Linked DNA regions of Homo sapiens. The protein of the gene in region 1 purifies or fractionates together with the protein of each later gene. This does not show direct contact. Each region holds a gene or a part of one and is shown in the gene's direction. Other genes may lie near its edges.

Region 1 (3,500 bases):
CAAATGAAATGTTTAGACCAGAGCCAGATGACCCTACTGCTACCACAGAGCCAGCCACTGTGAAGTGGGAAGGGCTGATGTGAGGTCCGGGTTCTGGTGGCTCAGCTGACCGCACCCCACAGGGCGGGAGAGCCCCTCTGCTGGCACCTCCAAAACCTGGGTGCCTCATGAAACAGGCTTCTCCCTTGTGGGAGGCAACTTCTGTTTAGCATGGGACCAGCTTCTGGGTCCTAACATCTCCCCAGCCCACCCCTCAGGACTGCTTCTCTGCAGATGGCCGGGTTCTTGTCCTGCCTTTATTCTGCCCTTGCCGTGTTACCTTGGGCAAGTTGCATCTCCTTTCTCAACCTCTCTGTTGGTGCCTCTAGGATCTGTGACCCCGATATCTGGGTGGGATGCTGTATTCCCTTCCTAGGGCTGCCACAAACTAGGTGGCTTAAAGCAACAGAAATATTCTCTGACAGTTCTGGAGGCGAGAAGTCTGAAATCAAGGCGTCTGCAGGTCCGTGCTCCCTCTGAAACCTGTTGAGAAGAATCTGTCCTTGCCTCTTTGTAGCTTCTGGTGGTGGCCAGCAATCCTTGATGTTCCTTGGCTTGTAGTCGTCACTCCAGCCTGTCTCCTGGCATGGCTGTCTTCCTGTGTATCTCTTCTTAAAAGGACACCAGTCACATTGGAAGAAGGGCCCACCTTACTGCAGTATGACTTAATCTTAACTAATTATGTCTGTAGCAACCTTTTTTCCAAATAAGGTCACATTTTGAGATACTGGGGTTGCTCGGGGTTGGGACCTCAACATATCTTTTTGGGAGACACAATTCAACTCATAACAGATGGAGTAGGGAAGCGTCCAAGGGGAGGAGAGGAAGCCGAGACACAGTCTCCAAGCCAGGCTTGCTAATGTCCTGCCATCCTCTCCCTGTTGCAGAACCCAGTAGGTGTGGGCCGCTACCTCAACACCTGGCTGATGGAGACAAAGGACAGGCGGCAGCGATATCGATCCCTATTCCTGAGTGGATCCAAACGCTACCTCTCAGACCTGGCCCGGGACATGCTCATGCAGTGAGTGCAGCTGGAGCTGCAGGCGAAGGGGCGAGGGCGGTGGGGGGTCTTACTCTGGGGTGGGCTGGTGGTTCCCCATGTTTGGTTCCCATGGGAACACAGCTTCTGCCCCTAATGCCAGCCAAACAGCAGAGGCAGTGGAGGGACGTTCACGTTCAGATCCTGGCTCTGCCACTTACTGTAAGTGTGAGGTGGGGCATGCTGCGTAACTTCGCTGAGCCTCATTTCCTTCAGCTGTCAAAAGAGCAGATGTTTGAGGAGACCCAAATGAAATGATCTGTTGAAAACCCTTGGTAAGGAAAAGGTACTCAATCAACCTTAAATCTGCCACCCAGAGCCCATACGGTCCAGTCTCGGCTCTCAGTGGCTTCACCACGTGGAATCTGTTTCTTGGTGTTCATAATGGGGTTGGTAAAACTCATTTCAGAAGGTTGCAAAGCCTAAGAAGGGAAAGGTACATTAAATACTGTGGCAAACTATACAACAGCTTGTAAATGTTAGCTGCTGCCATATTTGATTGACCTAAGAGGCCATCCATTGTAATATAGTAACAATTTCAGAAATGTTACAATGTTGACAAACATGCACTTTATAATCCAGTATTTTTTTTTTTTTGAAATTATGGTGAGGACATGAGGACCAGATTCTGAGGACCAGATTTCTCAGGAGAAATCAGCTTTTAAATGTAATTTTAAAGAATATTTTATTTTTTATCAAAGTAGTGCTGTGTCTTCCTCCTTCTCAACTTACCCCCTTGTTCTGGTGGGTTCCTGAGAAAGGGCTGAGGAAGGAAAGATTTTTGATAGAATGTATGCCTGAAAATGTTTCTTATTTTTCCTTTCTGCACATCTGATCAATAGTTTGGTTGGAAATAAAATTCTAGGTTGGATATAATTTTCCCTCTGAATTTTGAAGGCCTTTCATAGCCTCCTAGCTTCAAATATGGTTGCTGAGAAGTCTTATACCTTTCTGGTTTTCTGTGCTGTGTATGTGACCTGCATTTCCTTCCTGGAAGCTTTCAGGATCTTCTCTTTGTACTTCCTGTTCTGATGCATCTTGGCATGGGTCTGTTTCATCCTTTGTGCTGGGTACTTAGTGGCTTCCCTCCATCTGGAGACTCAGCACCTTCTATTCTGAGAGAATCTTCTGAGTTTTGTCTTTGACGATTTCCTCTCCTCTGTGTTCTGTCTGCTGCCTTTCAGATATCTCTTTTAGATGAATGTTAGATGCCCTGGTTTGGCACTCTAGTTTTCTTTTTTTTTCTCTCTCTCTCTTCTTTCTTATTTTCCATCTTACCTTTCTGTTCTACTTTCTGGTAAAATTTTCTTGTCCTTATCTACCCTACTATTATTTTAAAAATTTTGGCTATCATATTTTTTAGTTTCCAAGAGTTCTTTTGCTGTGGATTGCTCTTTTCTTTCTTCTTTTAATAGCACCCAGTTCTGTGTCATGTATGCAGTGTGCAGTATGTTCTTTTTTTTTCTTTTAAGATGAGGTCTCACTCTGACGCCCAGCCTGGAGCACAGTGATGCAATCTTGGCTCACTGCAACCTCTGCCTCCCAGGCACAAGCGATCCTCCTGCCTCACCCTCCAAAGTAGCTGGGATTACAAGCATGCACCACCACACCCGGCTAATTTTTGTTATTTTTTGTAGAGGCCAGGTTTTGTCATGTTGCCCAGGCTGGTCTTGAACTCCTGAGCTCAAGCAATCTGCCTGTCTCAGCCTCCCAACGTGCTGGGATTACAGGTGTGAGCCACTGCGGCTGGCTGCAGTATGTTCTTTTATCTAAAGATGTTAATTAAGTTTTCCTGAAGTTCTTTTGCCCCCTGTGTTGTCTCCAATTCTTCCAAGTTCCTTTTTTTCTTTTGCTTGTTTGTTCATACTGAAGAGGAAAGCACTAAATAATACTGTGAGTCTGGTTGGGGCCTGTCAGTCACTGTGAGTGATTGGCAGGGGCCCTGGTCTTTCTGTTGAGACCCTCAAATGCCAGTGTCTCTAGGTGTTTTCTGTGGGACTATTCAGCTTCTCTAGAAAACAATCCTCTGTCCTGGGTGGGGGTAAGTGTGGTTGTTGGCGATCAGAGGAAGGAGACTGGGCTGTCTCATTCAGCGTATGGACTGCCTCCTACCCCCTCTCTTCTCATTGTGGGACCTGTCTGCCTACATTCCACTGTGCACCTCCTCCTAGCCCCCTGGAATCTATCCACAAACCAAACCTCCAGTCTACTGCTGGCTGGGTGAGGAGTCAGCAGGAGGTCATGTCTAGATGGGATCTCATTCTGTTACCCAGGTGGGAGTGTAGTGGCACAATCATAGCTCACGGCAGCCTAGAACTCCTGAGCCAAAGCAATCCTCACCTTGGTCTCCCATGTAGCTGCAACTATAGGTGCGTGCCACCATGACTGGCTACTTTTTAATTTTTATTTTTGTAGAGACAGA
Region 2 (3,500 bases), on another chromosome or scaffold:
CAAATTATATAAGATGTTAGTATCTGGAATATATAAAGAATTTATAATAGATCAATAGGAAAAGATAACCCAACAGAAAATCAGAAAACAAAAGGACATGAATAGGCCTTTCACAGAAAACAAAACCTAAAATGACCAGTAAACATATGGTCAAATCCACTGCCCAAATCTACTATTAATATGGGATGCTTGTTTTCTGTAAAGAGAATCTAGGGATTGTTAGACTTTTAAAAACCATCTTGTTCAAAAATAGCTAACAGGTTTTCTCTTGGGAAGTGACTTGAGTAGTCATTAGTGGCTGTCTAGATAGAGCCTTGTTATTCAACATGATCTGCATCAGTATCATTTAGGAGCTTGTTAGAAATACAAAATCTTGAGCCCCACTCCAGACCTATTAAATCAGAATCTGCATTTAAACTAGATCCCAGATGTATCTTAAGTACATCTTTAGAGTTTGAGGGGCACTGGACTAGAGTGTTTATGTTGAGAATCTTGAGACGTTGTCTGGGTTCAGCAGGAAATGGTTCCATGATTGATGGGTGATGTATGTCCTAAGTGTGGAAGAGGGATATGGTGGCTCATGATCCAGGAATGAGACAGCCATGCTGACATGGCCATTCTCAGTTACTTAGTTCTCTGACAGGATATTTTTAAATATCTATTTTTATTGCTAAGTAATATGCATAGCAGTTGTCCCTCTGTTTCTCTAAGCCCAGATCTCTACTCTGAGTAATTATTAGTTTAATTTTCTACTTTATTCTTTTCTGAATCTTTCTGAATTTTTTATAAGTTAGGATTTTTTTTAAAGTTTTAAGTGAATAAAGTAATGTGGTCTGTTCTATATTTGCAATCCATATTAACTCATGTGGCTGGTAAACAGAGCATTAGGTCATGTGATGCATGATTTTTTTTCCCGTTCGTATTTTGTGCCACCAGATAACAGCAGCAGAATGCCCCTCCCCAGACGACCATTACTAAGTTTCATTTTAGATCTTCTCTTTACTTAAAAACATGGGCCTGGCACAGTGGCTCATGACTGTAATCCCAGCACTTTGGGAGGCTGAGGGAGGAGGAGACCTTGTGTCTACCAAAAATAAACAAAATTAGCTGGGCATAGTGGTGTGCACCAGTGATCCCAGCTACTTGGGAGGCTGAGGTGGACCTCAGAGGTCAAGGCTTCAGTGAGCTGCGATCACACCACTGTACTGCAAGAGACCCGTCTCAAAAACAAAACAATACGTGAATATGGGGATGTAAATAAATGTTATTATACATGCTGTTCTTTGACTTAGCTTTTTCTTTTAACGCATTGTATCCTGGATTTCATTCAGTGTCAGTATGTAAAGGTTTATTGTCTTCTTTTTAATGACATTCAAGCATTTCTTAGTATGGATTAGAGTATTTTATTCAGTCTTTCCCCTAATAACGGACTTGCCTGTGATCTGTCAATCAGTTGCTTTGATTAGTGTTTTGGAAACAATAGGAAACTATTTATATTCACATGGGAAAGCAGATTTTGAAGATCTTTTAGATAAAAATATACATAATTTTAAGAAGAGCATTCTTTCAGTCTACCAATATACTTGACTATTAAGGAGAAACTGTTCCTTTTGTTGTTTCTCTTCAGGCTCTCGAACAGTGTGGCCTGATGAAACTATGGGACCCTTTGGACCTCAAGATCAGAGGTTCCAGCTTCCTGGGAACATAGGTTTTGATTGTCACCTCAATGGGACTGCTTCACAGAAGAAAAGCCTGGTTCATAAAACTTTGCCTGATGTTCTAGCAGAACCTTTATCAAGTGAAAGACATGAGTTTGTGATGGCACAATATGTGAATGAATTTCAGGTAAATTGTTGGTAACATTTATTGTGCTTTCCTGATTATTAATGCTATATGACTTGATTATTATAAGCATATTACTTTTGTTGAAAAAGTAAAAAATCAATTTAATTCCAGTACATGTATATACAAAAACAGCATATATAGCTTTGGAAAACTTGGCATTGTCCTCTACAAAGTGTTTGCTATATAATTTTTTTACTGTAGATTATAATATTTTTAAAATATTTCTTGAAAAGTATGTTTTTAAGTAACTACTCTAGATATACATAATGTAATTACATCTGTAGACTGGAAATTTAGGTTCCCTGTTTTTCATTTTTAATAAATGGCAATTAAATTTGTATATGGATCTAATTCCAACTGGTTCTGTATTCCTCTAGCCATTTAAAAGCTTAAGAAAAATTTGAGATCTCTGAAATTGTTCAGATATAGTAAAAAAAAAAAAAAGGAACCAGTTTCATAAGTTTATTTTTTCTTAAACAATTTATTAAGGTTTGTTTGGGTTTTTTTTTTTCATTTTTAAACATTTTAAACTTGCATTTATGATTATTTATTTAAGTGGAAAGCTACATGCAATTCAGGGTTTCTGTCAAACCCCTGATGGTTATCATTTTTCATATTTTTGCATAGTTTTAGGCTGAGTTTTTTTTTATCAAAGCCATATTATAAGCAGCACCAATTCCTTACATTTGAGTTATGTTAGATGACATGACACTGAGACACAGTTGACCTGTCCTATATTTTTATCTCAGATAATTCCTTCTCAGCCTTCTTGGCTCCTTGTTCTTCCTGTCTACCAACTAAATTACATTTCCCATAAGTTTCTGTCCTACACCTTCTCATTTGAATCACCCCTTGGTCACTTAATCCCTTGGCCGCCTCCACAGTCTATGTTTTTATAATTTCTAATTCAGTATTTCTATTTCTGACATTTCCAGTTCTATATTTCTATATGCCTACTGAACCATCTTTGTTTGGATGTCTCACAAGTCCCCAGATTTTGTGTGTCTAATACTGAAGTAATCTTTTTTTCCTTAAAAACCTGTCCTAACTCCTGTATAACCAATACTATTAGTGGAATAACCATCCTCCCCTCTCTCGTAAGATAAAACTTATAGCACCAACCTTCTTTCTCCATCATATCACTATAAATAATATAAAAATCACATCGCTTTTATCTCTCAAGTTGCTCCTAAAATATTAGTGTCCTTTCAATTCTTTGCCAGAGTTCAAGGCCTCTTTGTCTTACCTGGATTTTTAGAGTCATTGTAGCATGACACACAATGAAGATAGAATAAATCTGGGTTCAAAGATTGACTCTGCAACTTACTTAATTTTGTGACCTCGAGGAAATTACTTAACCTTTCTAAGCTCCTGTTTCTTTGTTGTTGTTGTTGTTGTTTGGTTTGTTTGTTTTGAGATGAAGTCTTGCTCTGTCACCAGGCTAGAGTGCAGTGGTGCGATCTTGGCTCACTGCAACCTGCAACTCCCTAGTTTAAGTGATTCTCCTGCCTCAGCCTCCCGAGTAGCTGAGATTACAGGCGTGCACCACCACACCCAGCTGATTTTTGTATTTTTAGTAGAGGTGGGGTTTCACCATGTTGGCTAGGATGGTCTCGATCACCTGACCTTGTGATCTGGCCGCCTTGGCCTCCCAA

Evidence for each region. The genes of interacting proteins can lie anywhere in the genome.
Region 2: the proteins of CIMAP2 (region 1) and MMADHC purify together in Homo sapiens (affinity purification with mass spectrometry; one large-scale study listed by BioGRID and IntAct). This does not show direct contact.

Annotation. Positions count from the first base shown.
Region 1 is NC_000001.11:54,816,063-54,819,562, forward strand, and holds part of CIMAP2 (ciliary microtubule-associated protein 2), read left to right. Parts: intron 1-926; coding exon 927-1,060; intron 1,061-3,500.
Region 2 is NC_000002.12:149,577,776-149,581,275, reverse strand, and holds part of MMADHC (cobalamin trafficking protein CblD), read left to right. Parts: intron 1-1,627; coding exon 1,628-1,845; intron 1,846-3,500. UniProt on the Homo sapiens protein: Involved in cobalamin metabolism and trafficking. Plays a role in regulating the biosynthesis and the proportion of two coenzymes, methylcob(III)alamin (MeCbl) and 5'-deoxyadenosylcobalamin (AdoCbl). Promotes oxidation of cob(II)alamin bound to MMACHC.